Homo sapiens: one gene and its partner. The protein of the gene in region 1 interacts with the protein of each later gene in a biochemical or structural test. Each region holds a gene or a part of one and is shown on either strand. Other genes may lie near its edges.

Evidence for each region.
Region 2: the proteins of ATG2A (region 1) and ZDHHC11 form a complex in vitro, tested with the Homo sapiens proteins (one study listed by BioGRID).

Annotation. Positions count from the first base shown.
Region 1 is NC_000011.10:64,900,208-64,907,226, reverse strand, and holds part of ATG2A (autophagy-related protein 2 homolog A), read left to right. Parts: intron 1-411; coding exon 412-562; intron 563-693; coding exon 694-893; intron 894-1,033; coding exon 1,034-1,114; intron 1,115-1,378; coding exon 1,379-1,485; intron 1,486-1,571; coding exon 1,572-1,664; intron 1,665-3,550; exon of another isoform or gene 3,551-3,566; coding exon 3,567-3,637; intron 3,638-3,862; coding exon 3,863-3,939; intron 3,940-4,546; coding exon 4,547-4,711; coding exon of another isoform or gene 4,712-4,717; intron 4,718-4,771; exon of another isoform or gene 4,772-4,840; coding exon 4,841-4,967; intron 4,968-5,050; coding exon 5,051-5,265; intron 5,266-6,134; coding exon 6,135-6,343; intron 6,344-6,597; coding exon 6,598-6,733; intron 6,734-7,019. UniProt on the Homo sapiens protein: Lipid transfer protein involved in autophagosome assembly. Tethers the edge of the isolation membrane (IM) to the endoplasmic reticulum (ER) and mediates direct lipid transfer from ER to IM for IM expansion.
Region 2 is NC_000005.10:847,972-855,824, reverse strand, and holds the start of ZDHHC11 (palmitoyltransferase ZDHHC11), read left to right. Parts: upstream 1-4,838; 5' UTR 4,839-5,222; coding exon 5,223-5,444; intron 5,445-7,164; coding exon 7,165-7,343; intron 7,344-7,853. UniProt on the Homo sapiens protein: Endoplasmic reticulum-localized palmitoyltransferase that could catalyze the addition of palmitate onto various protein substrates and be involved in a variety of cellular processes.

The DNA of each region.
Region 1 (7,019 bases):
CAAACTTCAGAGCTCCCATTGGCGGCAGAGCAAGACCAGCGCGAGCAGCTCCAGGTCAAGAATGTGGAGAGCAGGAGGCCTGAGTGGGCAGCGCCAGCCCACCCACGCCAGCCTGCCCACCCTGTCACAGCCCATCAGCTCCTTCTGACCCCCTGCTGTATGTAAAGCACCATGCTAGGGGTCGGGATGGGCATGGAGCACCCACTGTTCCCACTCCGAGCGGGCAGACCCGGCAGAGATTATTTTTCTCCTGGCAAAAGAGGCAAGTGCCATCCAGGGCCTCCAGCAGCGTCCATGGTGGAAACTGGAGCTGACCCCCTTAGGCCAGGGCTCCAGGAGCCGCCAACCCCCAGAGGGCTTGAGGGTTGCTGAGTGCAGCTGGGGAAGCCAGGCTGTGTGCTCCTTCTGCAGGATGAGGGTGGGAAGCGGCTGGAGGCTGTGCACGGGGAGCTGGTGCTGGACATGGAGCACGGTACCCTCTTCAGCGTCTCCCAGTACTGTGGCCAGCCAGGACTTGGCTACTTCTGTCTGGAAGCTGAAAAGGCAACACTCTACCACCGAGGTGTGAGGCCTGGGGGCAGGTCACCACTGGGGTCCAGGGTTGGGGGTGGAGGGCTTTCAGGACGGATGTGGGCCCTGGGTGGAGTGGGTAGCCAGTTGGCTTGGCAGGGGGCTCATGAGACCCCTCCCCAGCGGCCGTGGATGACTACCCGCTGCCCAGTCACCTGGACCTTCCCAGTTTCGCTCCCCCGGCTCAGCTGGCCCCAACCATCTACCCATCGGAGGAAGGGGTGACCGAGCGGGGAGCCTCGGGCCGCAAGGGCCAGGGCCGGGGACCCCACATGTTGTCCACTGCTGTGCGCATCCACCTGGACCCCCACAAGAATGTGAAGGTATGGGCTTGCCTACCATCCACCCCTCCTGCTAGCCTGGGCTGCAGCCCCGGTGTGCGGTGGGACCCCAGTGCGCGGTGAGGCCCCAGTGCACGGTGGGGCTGGCCTCCCCACTGCCCTGACTGCGCCCCCACCCTCAGGAGTTCCTGGTGACACTGCGGTTGCACAAAGCCACCTTGCGCCACTACATGGCCCTGCCCGAGCAGAGCTGGCATTCCCAGGTGAGCGTGGGTGGTGGGAAGCCACATGGCCCAGTGACTCTGGACTTCTGTTTTGGGCAAGCAGGTCTCTAGGTGGGAGGAGGCCGGTGGGAGGAACATGGACTGGGCCACAGCTGACCTTGTCCGGAGCTCCTGGGCAAGGGGTGTGGCAGACAGCTAGTGGGCAGAAGGTGAGGTGCCAGGCAGGGGCCAGGACAGGGAGGGGTTAGAGGAGGGAGGACACCACCTGATCCTCACTGCTTCCTCCTGCCCTGGCCTCTGAAGTTGTTGGAGTTCCTAGACGTGCTGGATGACCCTGTGCTGGGCTACCTGCCCCCGACGGTCATCACCATCCTGCACACACACCTGTTCTCCTGCTCTGTGGACTATAGGTACCAGGCTGGGTGGGCCAGGGGCTGGGGACGGGGATGGGCTCTCAGGTGTAAGGAGCCGGCCCCAGCCCGAGTATCACCCCCAGGCCACTCTACCTCCCAGTGCGTGTCCTCATCACCGCGGAGACCTTCACTCTCTCCAGCAACATCATCATGGACACCTCCACCTTCCTGCTCAGGTATGCAGGCCGCCCCACACTGGGCCATCCCACCCTCGCCGGGCCGAAGCTGCCTGCCAGCTGTGTGTCCTCTGGTGCTCTCGGTCTTAATGTACACCCGGGTGATAGTCTCATTCTCAGGAATGTGGATTGTTTCCGCCTTTCTAGAGGGCAGTTGGAGCCTCCTGATGAGACCCTTATAAGCATTTGTGCTCTCTGACCTGTAATCTCATGTCTGAGGGTTGTCCTAGGATATGCGAATAAGAGAGGTGGGATTTAATGCTTATGGAGTATAAGTTAAAACAGCCAAAACGTATCAGTTAAATCACAAGCCTCACAACCTGAGCAAATAAGCATGGCCCACCTAGTAGGTAGAAAACCATGCAGGGATTAAGGTGAAGCTGAAGAATCCCTTCAAAATATAAGAAGATGGAGGGTGCGGTGGCTCACACCTGTAATCCCAGCACTTTGGGAGGCTGAGGCAGGCAGATCACAAGGTCAGGAGTTCGAGACCAGCCTGGCCAATATGGTGAAACCCCGTCTCTACTAAAAATACAAAAATGAGCCGGGGGTGGTGGCAGGCGCCTGTAGTCCCAGCTACTTGGGAGGCTGAGGCAGGAGAATCACTTGAATCTGGGAGGCGGAGGTTACGGTGAGCGAAGATTGCGCCACTGCACTCCAGCCTGGGTGACAGAGCGAGACTCCGTCTCAAATAAATACATAGATAGATAGATAGATAGATAGATAGATAGATAGATAGATAGATAAAAAATATAGAAAGATGCCACAGTACAGTGTTTACTCAAATAACATTGGATACAGGACTGCGTACGTTTTAAAATCAGTTTATGAAGGGGTGTTTATATGTCTCGGCGTGCAGCTGCAGAGAAAGTTTGGAAGGAGATGTGTATGGTGGTTTTCTCAGAATTAGGGATTAGGAATGATGAATGATTTTTATTTTCTTTATTCTAAAATATCTTAAAGGAGTTTTCATTATGTTACCCTTAAAATAAAGACTTTTTTATTTATTTTTTTTTTTTGAGACAGAGTCTCGCTCTGTCAGCAGGCTGGAGTGCAGTGGCGCAATCTCAGCCGACTGCAACCTCTGCCTCCTGGGTTCAAGCGATTCTCCTGCCTCAGCCTCCCAAGTAGCTGGGACAACAGGCACCCACCACCACACCCAGCTAAGTTTTGTATTTTTAGTAGAGACAGGGTTTCACCTTGTTGGTCAGGCTGGTCTCGAACTCCTGACCTCGTGATCCGCCTGCCTTGGCCTCCAAAAGTGCTGGGATTATAGGCATGAGCCACCATGCCCAGCCCTTATTATTATTTCTTTTTGAGATGGAGTCTCACTCTGTCGCCCAGGCTAGAGTGCAGTGGTGTGATCTAGGCTCGCTGCAACCCCTGCCTCCCTAGTTCAAGAGATTCTCCTGCCTCAGCCTTCCAAGTAGCTGGGATTACAGGCACCCGCCACCATGCTCGGCTAATATTTGTATTTTTAGTAGACATGGGGTTTCACCACGTTGGCCAGGCTGGTCTCAAACTCCTGATATCAGGTGATCCGCCTGCCTCAGCCTCTCCAAGTGCTGGGATTACAGGCGTGAGCCACCGCGCCAGCCAAAAATAAGGACTTATTTTAGAAGAACCACAAATGCAGCAGGGAGAAAAATGGACACCCCTTCCCAGGACTGTCATGAGGCCCCATTGAGGTGTCGGAACTGCAGGCACTTTGAGAGCTGCAAGTGCTGCCCGCTTCCCACTGCCTGCTGTCTGGGCCTTCTCCCCATTGTGCAGGCAGGAACGCTGAGGCTGGAGGGGCCTGTCCATACCACCTCCTGTGGGCTTGGGACCCCTCTGCTCGGCTCCCGTGGAGCTGCCCCCTGCAGCGGTGCCCGGGCCCTTCTCAGCCCTGTTCCCCCCCAGGTTCATCCTCGATGACTCCGCCTTGTACCTGTCCGACAAGTGTGAGGTGGAGACCCTGGACCTGCGGCGAGGTGGGCAGGGCCGGGACTGGGCTCCCTCCCCTCTGAGGGACCACCGCCCCGGCCACACCCAGAGCAGCCAGGTGTCTCCCCGCAGCTGCTGGCCGGGTCCTTAGCTCCCACACGTAGCCCGCACAGCAGGGACTACACCTGGATCAACCGGATCCTTCCCCCAGGTGCTGGGGCCGGGGCCGGGTGGAAGGGGGCCACAGGACCTTTCTCTCGCCTCTGCTGCAGATTATGTCTGTGTTTTGGATGTTGACCTCTTGGAACTTGTGATTAAAACCTGGAAAGGGAGCACCGAGGGCAAACTGGTGAGTGAGGCTGTCACTCTGGCTCCTGGAGCCACAGCAGGTGCAGGGGCCAAGGGAGTCTTCAGGGGCTGCTGCTCCCTCACGTGCCTGGGCTCCGGACACAGTTCATGCCTGCCCTTCCTGGGCTGCAGTTAGCGCCCCTCCTGCAAAGGGCCATAGTACAGCCCTGGTGGGGGTGTCCCTTGATGCTGGCTGAATGAATGAATGGGTTTCAGCCCTGCCACCAGAGGACGCGGCAGCCAGGGCACCAGCGAGGCCCTGGGAATCAGCCACCTTTGTAGGTCCCCGGATTCATCTCCTGTAAGATGGAGATAACCTGCCCTGCCTCGCTAGGCATGCAGAGCCCTTCACGGGGAGTGGGGTAGGGTGGGTGGGCACACTCCTGCTTCCTTGGATGGCCCTGGGCCAAGCCCCTTTCACCCTCTGGGTGAACAGTTTGTTCATCTGTTCAGTGGAGTTACTGGGCAGGTCATCCACTCCAGGAGAGACCATCCCTGTTCTGCCTGTGGCAGGATCAGAACTGCGGTGCCCTCCCAGCGAGCGGGTGGGGCCAGCAGGCAGTGGCCCCTGTGTTCACATAGCTGCTCCCCCCACCCCGCCCCTGCAGAGCCAGCCACTATTCGAGCTGCGCTGCTCCAACAATGTGGTACACGTGCACAGCTGTGCCGACTCCTGTGCCCTGCTGGTCAACCTGCTCCAGTACGTAATGAGCACAGGCGATCTGCACCCCCCACCCCGGCCCCCCAGCCCCACGGAGATCGCCGGCCAGAAGGTACAGGTGAGGCCTGGCCACACAGGCTACCAGAGCTCGGCCAGGCCCCTCCCCTGCCATGGCCCTCGGGCCTGGGGTTGGGGGAGCTCTGTCCTGTCTCACTCATTGCTCCTCCCCTGCCTGGCCCAGCTCTCGGAGAGTCCTGCCTCTCTGCCCTCGTGCCCCCCAGTGGAGACGGCCCTCATCAACCAGCGTGACCTGGCCGACGCCCTCCTGGACACCGAGCGCAGCCTACGGGAGCTGGCCCAGCCTTCAGGTGAAGTGGGGGTGCTGTGGGGACAGCAGACACAGTCAGGCACCCACTGTGGGCGCCTCTCCAAACTGGCCTCTCTCCTATAGGTGGCCACCTCCCTCAGGCGTCGCCCATCTCCGTCTACCTATTCCCAGGTGAACGGAGTGGGGCCCCACCCCCTTCACCACCTGTCGGGGGCCCTGCTGGCAGCTTAGGGTCATGCTCAGAGGAGAAGGAAGATGAAAGGGAAGAGGAGGGCGATGGAGACACCCTGGACAGTGATGAGTTCTGCATCCTTGATGCTCCCGGCCTGGGCATCCCGGTGCGTGGTGGGAGGGATGGACCAGTTTGCCGTCCAGGCAGGTGTGTTTGGAGCGGGGACGGAACACTCAGGGGTGGTTGCCTGGCCATCTGGAGCTCCCGTGGTGAGAGAAGCAGGCAGGAGGTGGTTGCCATCACCTCGGGGGTGGTGCTAGGTCTGTGCCACCCTAGGGAGGCAGCCCTGATGCTGGGCTTTGATGGAGTAGGGGGATTTCCAGAGGAAGAGGAGGCCTGGTGTTTTGGGCAGAGGGACTGGGAAATTCAAGGGATGGAGGAAGAGGAGAGGGCAGTTAGCAAGAGGGATGGAGAACCATGTGGCTGCAAGGGCCAGTGGGAATGTCTGAACTCACCCAGGTCTTAGGAGGCAGGGCTGGCAGGAGCCTGGCATTCTCAGGCTCCTCTTGGACAGACCACTCAGGCATAGACTCGGGTGATAGCAACCCAGGAGTGTCATCTTTCATCAAAAACAGGGAGGAGGCCAAGCATGGTAGGTTACGCCTGTAATCCCAGCAATTTGGGAGGTCAAGGTGGGAGAATTGCTTGAGTCCAGCAATGAGAGATTAGCCTGAGCAACATAGTGAGACCCCGTCTCTACAAAAAATAAAAATAAAATTAGCCAGATATGGTGGCACATGTCTGCAGTCCCTGCTACTCAGGAGGCTGAGAATGGAGGATCGCTTGAGCCTAGGAGGCAGAGGTTGCAGTGAACTGTGATTGTGCCACTGCACTCCAGCCTGGGTGACCGAACATGACCCGACCCTGTCTATAAAAAAAAAAAAATGAAAAAGAAGTGAGGCCAGGTTGCTGGGGCTGGGGGCAGCTGGGCTGGATCGAACATCTGTGTCACACGTCTACCTGGCCTCCCTGCAGCCCCGAGATGGGGAGCCTGTGGTGACACAGCTGCATCCCGGCCCCATCGTTGTGAGGGACGGTTACTTCTCACGGCCGATCGGCAGCACGGACTTGCTGCGGGCACCTGCCCATTTCCCAGTGCCCAGCACTCGGGTGGTGCTACGTGAGGTCTCCCTCGTCTGGCACCTCTATGGGGGCCGAGACTTTGGCCCCCACCCCGGCCACAGGTGAGGAGGAGCGGGTGCAGGTGGCAGCTGGTGAAGGTTGGGGCTCAGGCTGGTCCAGGTCTGACTTTCAGCAGCTGGAGACCTTGAGCCCCATCCACCCCAGGTGGGCCTCAGTTTCCTCATCCTTCCTTATCCCGCCTGCCTTCCAGGACTGGGGCTAGCGGGGGTCTCTTGTCCCAGGCTAAAAGGCCCGCTGAGGACGGGGAGGGAATGGGGTTCCTCTGAGTCAGCTTGGCCCCTGTCCCTCTTCCCAGGGCAAGAACTGGCCTCTCAGGTCCCAGGAGCTCCCCTTCCCGCTGCTCTGGCCCCAACCGGCCCCAGAACTCATGGCGCACGCAGGGGGGCAGCGGGCGGCAGCACCATGTCCTCATGGAGATCCAGCTGAGCAAGGTGAGTGGGGTGGCGAGTGCCTACTACACGTGTGTGTCATAGAACAACGGGCCTTGTTCTCGATGTCACGTGTAGCAATGACTAATGCAGAGGAAAACCCCTGCCTTTGTAGTGGAGGAAGCCAGGCAGGGACCAAGATGTATCGAGTGTGTCCGATGGTGAAGAGCGCTCAGGGGAGAGTCTGCAGGGGTGGAGGAGACAGGTGTGCTGGGGAGGGTCTGGAAAGTCCTCTTCTGAAGGCACCATTTGAACAAAGACCTGAACAAGTGGGGATGTGAGCCAGGAA
Region 2 (7,853 bases), on another chromosome or scaffold:
CACTGTCCTCTGTGGGGTCTGTCCCCACTGCTCACTGTCCTCTGTGGTGTCTGTAACCCTCGCTCGCTGTCCTCTGTGGGGTCTGTCCCCGCTGCTCACTGTCCTCTGTGGGGTCTGTCCCCCCGGCTCACTGTCCTCCGTGGGGTCTGTCCCCCCGGCTGGCTGTCCTCTGTGGGGTCTGTGCCCCCCAGCTCACTGTCCTCGGTGGGGTCTGTCCCCGCTGCTCACTGTCCTCTGTGCGGTCTGTCCCCCCGGCTTGCTGTCCTCCATGGGGTCTGTCTTGCCGGCTCGCTGTCCTCTGTGGGGTCTGTGACCCCAGCTTGCTGTCCTCTGTGGGGTCTGTCCCCGCTGCTCACTGTCCTCTGTGGGGTCTGTGCCCCCTGGCTCGCTGTCCTCTATGGGGTCTGTGCCCCCTGGCTCGCTGTCCTCTGTGGGGTCTGTCTCCCCGGCTCTCTGTCCTCTGTGGGGTCTGTGCCCCCTGACTCGCTGTCCTCTGTGGGGTCTGTGCCCCCTGGCTCGCTGTCCTCTGTGGGATCTGTCTCCCTGGCTCGCTGTCCTCCATGGTGTCTCTCCCCCCGGCTCGCTGTCCTCTGTGGGGTCTGTCCCCGCTGCTCACTGTTCTCCATGGGGTCTGTCTCCCCGGCTCTCTGTTCTCTGTAGGGTCTGTGTCCCCCGGCTCGCTGTCCTCCATGGGGTCTGTCCCCGCGGCTCGCTGTCCTCCGTGGGGTCTGTCCCCGCGGCTCGCTGTCCTCTGTGGGGTCTGTCCCCCTGGCTTGCTGTCCTCTGTGGGTTCTGTCCCCCTGGCTCACTGTCCTCTGTGGGGTCTGTCCCCCTGGCTCGCTGTCCTCCGTGGGGTCTGTGCCCCCCGGCTCACTGTCCTTGGTGGGGTCTATCCCCACTGCTCACTGTCCTCTGGGCAGTCTGACCCCCTGGCTTGCTATCCTCCATGGGGTCTGTCCCCCCGGCTCGCTGTCCTCTGTGTGGTCTGTGCCCCCCGGCTCGCTGTCCTCTGTGGGGTCTGTCCCCGCTCCTCACTGTCCTCCGTGGGGTCTGTGCCCTCCGGCTCGCTGTCCTCGGTGGGGTCTGTCCCGGCTGCTCACTGTCCTCTGTGCGGTCTGTCCCCCCGGCTTGCTGTCCTCCATGGGATCTGTGCCCCCAGCTCACTGTCCTCTGTGGGGTCTGTGACCCTGGCTCGCTGTCCTCTGTGGGGTCTGTGCCACTCGCTCGCTGTCCTCTGTGGGATCTGTGACCCCTGGCTCACTGTTCTCTGTGGGATCTGTCTCCCCGGCTCGCTGTCCTCCATGGTGTCTCTCCCCCCGGCTCGCTGTCCTCTGTGGGGTCTGTCCCAGCTGCTCACTGTCCTCCGTGGGGTCTGTCTCCCCGGCTCTCTGTCCTCTGTAGGGTCTGTGCCCCCCGGCTCACTGTCCTCCGTGGGGTCTGTCTCCCTGGCTCTCTGTCCTACATGGGTTCTGTCCCCACGGCTCGCTGTCCTCTGTGGGTTCTGTCCCCCTGGCTTGCTGTCCTCCGTGGGGTCTGTGGCCCCTGGCTCACTGTCCTTGGTGGGGTCTATCCACACTGCTCAATGTCCTCTGGGCAGTCTGACCCCCTGGCTTGCTATCCTCCATGGGGTCTGTCCCCCCGGCTCGCTGTCCTCTGTGTGGTCTGTGCCCCCCGGCTCGCTGTCCTCTGTGGGGTCTGTCCCCGCTCCTCACTGTCCTCCGTGGGGTCTGTGCCCCCCGGCTCGCTGTCCTCGGTGGGGTCTGTCCCGGCTGCTCACTGTCCTCTGTGCGGTCTGTCCCCCTGGCTTGCTGTCCTCCATGGGATCTGTGCCCCCAGCTCACTGTCCTCTGTGGGGTCTGTCCCCCTGGCTTGCTGTCCTCTGTGGGGTCTGTCCCCCTGGCTTGCTGTCCTCTGTGGGGTCTGTCCCCCTGGCTTGCTGTCCTCTGTGGGGTCTGTCCCCGCTGCTCACTGTCCTCTGTGGGGTCTGTGCCCCCAGCTGGCTGTCCTCGGTGGGGTCTGTCCCCGCTGCTCACTGTCCTCTGTGCGGTCTGTCCCCCCGGCTTGCTGTCCTCCATGGGATCTGTCTCCCCAGCTCACTGTCCTCTGTGGGGTCTGTCTCCCTGGCTCACTGTCCTACATGGGGTCTGTCCCCGTGGCTCGCTGTCCTCTGTGGGGTCTGTCCCCCTGGCTTGCTGTCCTCTGTGGGGTCTGTCCCCGTGGCTTGCTGTCCACTGTGGGGTCTGTCCCCCGGGCTTGCTGTCCTCTGTGGGGTCTGTCCCCGCTGCTCACTGTCCTCTGTGGGATCTGTCTCCCCAGCTCGCTGTCCTCTGTGGGGTCTGTGCTCCTCGCTCGCTGTCCTCTGTGGGGTCTGTGCCCCCTGGCTCACTGTCCTCTGTGGGGTCTGTCCCCGCTGCTCACTGTCCTCTGTGGGGTCTGTCCCCCTGGCTCGCTGTCCTCCGTGGGGTCTGTACCCCCGACTCGCTGTCCTCTGCGGGGTCTGTGCCCGACTCGCTGTCCTCGGTGGGGTCTATCCCTGCTGCTCACTGTCCTCTGTGGGGTCTGTGCCCGCTGCTCACTGTCCTCCGTGGGGTCCGTGCCCCCCGGCTCGCTGTCCTCTGTGGAGTCTCTGCCCCCTGGCTCGCTGTCCTCTGTGGGGTCTGTCTCCCTGGCTCGCTGTCCTCCGTGGGGTCTGTCCCCGCTGCTAATTGTCCTCCGTGGGGCCTGTGTCCCCTGGCTCGCTGTCCTCCATGGGGTCTGTCCACCTGGCTCGCTGTCCTCCGTGGGGTCTGTGCCCGCTGCTCGCTGTCCTCCATGGGGTCTGTCCCCCTGGCTCGCTGTCCTCCGTGGGGTCTTTCCCTGCTGCTTGCTGTCCTGCGTGGGGTCTGTCCCCTCGGCTCGCTGTCCTCCGCGGGGTCTGTCCCCGCTGCTCACTGTCCTCCGTGGGGTCTGTCCCCGCTGCTCGCTGTCCTCCGTGTGGTCTGTACCCCCGGCTCGCTGTCCTCCGTGGGGTCTGTCCCCGCTGCTTGCTGTCCTCCGTGGGGTCTCTTCCCCCGGCTCGCTGTCCTCCATGGGGTCTGTCCCCCGGTTTGCTGTCCTCTGTGGGGTCTGTCCCCGCTGCTCGCTGTCCTCCGTGTGGTCTGTCCCCCCGGCTCGCTGTCCTCCGTGGGGTCTGTCCCCCTTGCTCACTGTCCTCTGTGGAGTCTGTACCTCCAGCTTACTGTCCTCCGTGGCGTCTGTCCCCGCTGCTCATTGTCCTCCGTGGGGTCTGTCCCCCTGGCTCACTGTCCTCTGTGGAGTCTGTCCCCGCTGCTCGTTGTCCTCTGTGGGGTCTGTCTCCCTGGCTTGCTCACATTTTCTCTAATTTGGATGTATTACTTTTTCCAATCATCCTTTCCAGCTCTTGGTGCACAGTTTCGACCTGAAGTCTTCAGTCTTCTCAAAGTTCTTCAGTGTTTTCTTTTTTCTCTCACAGACTCTCCACCTTTCTGTTCTGAAATCCTGACAGATGAACGTGTTGTCTCCAGGCTCAAGGCTCAAGGCCGCTGAGCGATTCCCCTCTTCTCCTCTCTAAGATCTGTGGTCCTTCCTGGATTTGATATTCCAGGTTTTACCAATGTGACTTGGCGACATCATTTCTGTTTGTTGGCACTTTCATTTGGGTTTTGTTTTTAACTGGGAATTGTGTTTTTAATGTACAGGGTTGTCTTTCTGTGTTTCTATTTCCTTCCTTGGTAACTTTGACTTTTCTTTCTTTCTTTTTTTTTTTTTTGAGATGGAGTCTCCCTCTGTTGCCCAGGCTGGAATGCAGTGGTGCAATCTTGGCTCACTGCAGCCTCGACCTCCCAGGTTCAAACGATTCTCATGCCTCAGCCTCCCGAGTAGCTGGGATTAGAGGCATGTGCCACCATGCCCTGCTAATCTTTGTATTTTTAGTAGAGACAGGGTTTCGCCGTGTTGCCCAGGCTGGTCTGGAACTCCTGACCTCAGGTGATAGGCACGCCTCGGCTTCCCACAGTGCTGGGATTACAGGCGTGAGCCCCCGCGCCCGGCCAAAGAACCATGGTCCTGTTTCATAACTGTGAGTCTCTCGGGTCTCCCAGAGACATTCTTGTGTGACTCAAGCCCCAGGGTCCTGTGGCCCCGCATCCGCCTGGTGTCACATTTAGAGGACCAGGGAGGAGCCACCAAAGGCAGCGCAGAGCCACTGTATCATGGACGTTCACGACTGCAAGAACGAAGAATTGTTAACTATTTCTCAATGTCTCTCTTCTCAAAGAAATACATTTAATATCAACTTCATTTTCTGAAGGTTTTTTCCCAAAGAGACAACAAGGACTTTGAGCGAGGCATAACGTGGCGAAGCTTCCTAACCCTCCTCTGTAGAGACCGCCCAGCCCCTCAAGATCAACCCCCCACCCCGTAGCGGCCGTTGAGTGTCTTTCACTGCCGCTCTGTGACACCACGTCCCTCCCACCCCTGCCGCCCTCCCCACCTGACTGGCCAGGAGCAGCCGCAGCGTGTTCAGAACCTCCCAGCCACTGTCCACCCGGGCGGAGACCCCAGCCCCGCGTGGCTGGACGGGCTTCCCTGTCCTGTGGAAGGGGAGACACACAGGACCCTGTGAAGTGAGCTCTCGGGTCCTGCTCCTCTGGGAAGCTCAGAGAAGCCTCTCAGGGAGGATCTGGCAGGTTTCAGTGTTGCACCAGTGAGTAACGGCTCACGAGCTCTTCAGGCATTGCCTCAGTTTCTCACAGGCGCAGCCCTCTGCTCAGTGTGGCCTCTTTCTGACGTGGGTTTTCTTCTTGCACCTGGGGAGTCCTGGGTGGGCCTGTGTATTCGTGAACGGGTTGTGGGACCTGTCGCTGTGTGGGGGCTGTCGAGCACTCCCCAGAACGTAACAAATCCTCAGGGGAACTGATGGGCGGTCGCGCGGGCACTGGGTCCTCCACACCCTGGAGAGCCGTTTTCCGTTGCCACTCGGCTCTGGCCGGGGTCACATTCTGCAGCATGTCTGTTCATTCCCCTGGGCGGGGCCCTGCACCGACTCCAGCCCAGCCCCTGCTCCCTCTGCGGGGAACGTGGCCCCAGGCAGTGCTGGGCCATTGGCTGTCAGTGCTGGTCCTGGCGGCTGCATTCCCAGTCCCCTTGGTCTCTGTGACAGTGGGCGGGGCCGGCCCTCCCAGGATCTGACGGCGCAGGTCCTCCCCTTCTGTGTCCTGCAGATGGACACCCGCTCCGGGAGCCAGTGTTCCGTCACCCCAGAAGCCATACTCAATAATGAAAAGCTGGTCTTGCCGCCCCGCATCTCCAGAGTGAACGGCTGGTCGTTACCCCTGCACTACTTCCAGGTGGTGACCTGGGCTGTCTTCGTGGGCCTTTCCTCGGCCACCTTCGGGATCTTCATTCCCTTCCTGCCTCACGCGTGGAAATACATTGCCTACGTGGTATCCTTTTCATCGTGGCATGGTCTAAGCGGGAGGGGTTCCTGGAGGAACTTGCGATGGACCTGGCTGTGGGGTCTGGGCCATGGCTGCCCGGTGGCACCAGTCACCTGCCCTGGGCCAGACTATGTCCCCTGAGCCTGCAGGTGGGCCCAGTGGCCACTCATGCTCTGTGCAGCCCCTGCTTAGGGTCAGGACAGGACAGCGTTGGCTGAGGGGGCTCCGGAGAGGGAATCTGTCAGGAGGGACAGCAGCCCCCTGGCGTGGCGCAGGACCCGCCCTGCTGGCAGCCTTCCGCTAAAATCCCTGCGCAGCATTTTGCACATGGCCAGCACCTTTCTCCTTGCCCCTGGTGCCAAGGAGGAACAGCGCCATGCCCCGCAGGTCGGCAGCCTGCGTTTCCATGCCAAGCTTAGGCCACACTGCGAGGGCCTCTGGGCTGCCCTGCGGAGATGGCTGTCAACCCTGAACTCCTGGCTAGAAGGCGGTCCAGGGGCCAGGCAGGGTGACTGGAGGGCCCCGCACTCCACCCCTTCTATTTGGTTGCCATGGAGAGTCTGTGTTTGTCCCAGGGTGAGAGGAGGAGGGAGCCAGGATCTGAGGGCGGGAGCTGACGTCCCAGGCACGGGGAGCCCAGCTTCTCCTGGCTCCAGGGGACAAGGATCCTCTCCCCAGTGCCCCCGCAGCCAGGCTCTGAGCCCAGAGGGCCCAAGAAAGAGGCCCAGGGTCCCTGAGTGAGTCTGGGGTCCTCGAGAGAGTCTGGAGTCCCCGAGAGAGTCCGGAGGGGCCCTGAGGGAGTCTGAGGGGGGTTTCCCTGAGCTATTCTCGGGGAGAGGGTCCCTGAGTGAGCTGTCTGGGGTCTACAGGGAGCGGGTAGGTTGTGCAGCTCCCTCGCTCCTCCCCCTGCTCCTCCTGTCTGAGGCTGTCTTCTCTCCCAGTGCTCAGGGGTCTCTGGTATGAAAGAACCCAGGCTCCTCCAGGGCCTTTGGGGCTGCATCCGGCTGTGTTTATACCTGGGATGTCCCTCCTGTGGCCCTGCTCTGTCCCTCAAGCTGTAAAGGGTTTTGGGGTCACTGTGCTTGGCTGGGCTGACTGAGCCTCTGGGGGTGCGGTACATTCTGTGGGGGATTTGCCCTGTGTCCAACAGGGATGAACCAAAAGGGGCACGGGGGCAGCCTTCCCGGTCCCCGACTGGCACAGGGCTGTGTATGCAGGGCCAATGGGTAGCCTCATCTTCTCTAGGCCTGGGTAAGCAGGGCTGTGTGTGCAGGGCCGACGGGTGGACTCATCTCCTCTAGATCTGGGTGAGCAGGGCTGTGTGTGCAGGGCCATGTGTGAAGGGCCGGGTGTATAGGGCCGTGTGTGCAAGACTGGATGAGCAGGGCCATGTGAGCAGGGCCGGGCATGGGTGAGCTGGGCTCGGGTGAGCAGGGCTGGGTGTGCAGGGCTGGCTGTGCAGGGCTGGCTGTGCAGGGCTGGGTGTGCAGGCCCAGGTGAGCACGCCCAGGTGAGCAGGGCCAGGCGAACAGGGCTCAGTTGTGCAGGGCTGGGTGTGCAGGGCTGTGTGAGCAGGGCCAGGCCTGGGTGAGCTGGGCTCACGTGTGCAGGGCTGGGTGAGCAGGGCTGACCAGCGGCCACGCCTCTTCTGGGCCCTTGGGCCTCACGGGGACGCCTCGTGCCAGGCTGACCAGGCCCTGGGCCAGGTTCTTCCTTGACATGCCAGGTGACCGGGGGGATCTTCTCGTTCCACCTCGTCGTCCACCTGATCGCGTCCTGCATCGACCCGGCCGACTCCAATGTCAGACTCATGAAGAACTATTCTCAGCCCATGCCCCTCTTCGACAGATCAAAACATGCACACGTGATCCAGAATCAGTTCTGCCACCTGTGCAAGGTCACCGTGTGAGTGCCCGCCCTCGCCGAGGCCCCAAGGTGTCAGGGTCACCTCCAGGGTCCTGGTGCTCAGGTCACTGCTGGCCCCTCAGGGCCCGTGCCATGGCCGCAGCTGATGCTAGTGGAGCTTCCAGGGCCCGGCCCTGTGGCTGCGGGTGGATCGCCCCTCATCTCGCTGTGAACCGGGCGCGGTGCCGGGCCGCCCCAACTCCTCCGCAGGCAGGGCTGAGACTGGAGGGCTGGGTCTGTCACCTGCAGGTGACCCGCTGCTCCCCTGGAATGAAACACAGCAGCACTCAGGCATGTTTGGTCCTCAGTGGATTTTGTGCACGAGGTCCCTCCCCTGAGGGCCCAGGGCAAGAGAGCACTGTCTTTCTTGGGGAGTTTCAAGACAAGCCCCTAGGAAAGTGGGAGGTAAGGGTTCCAGTGTCTCCAGGGGCCCTGGAGGCCTCTGTGATGGCCTAGGGGTTGGCTACAGGGCTGTTGTCAGCTGCAAGGGAGGCCCTGTAGGCACAGGTG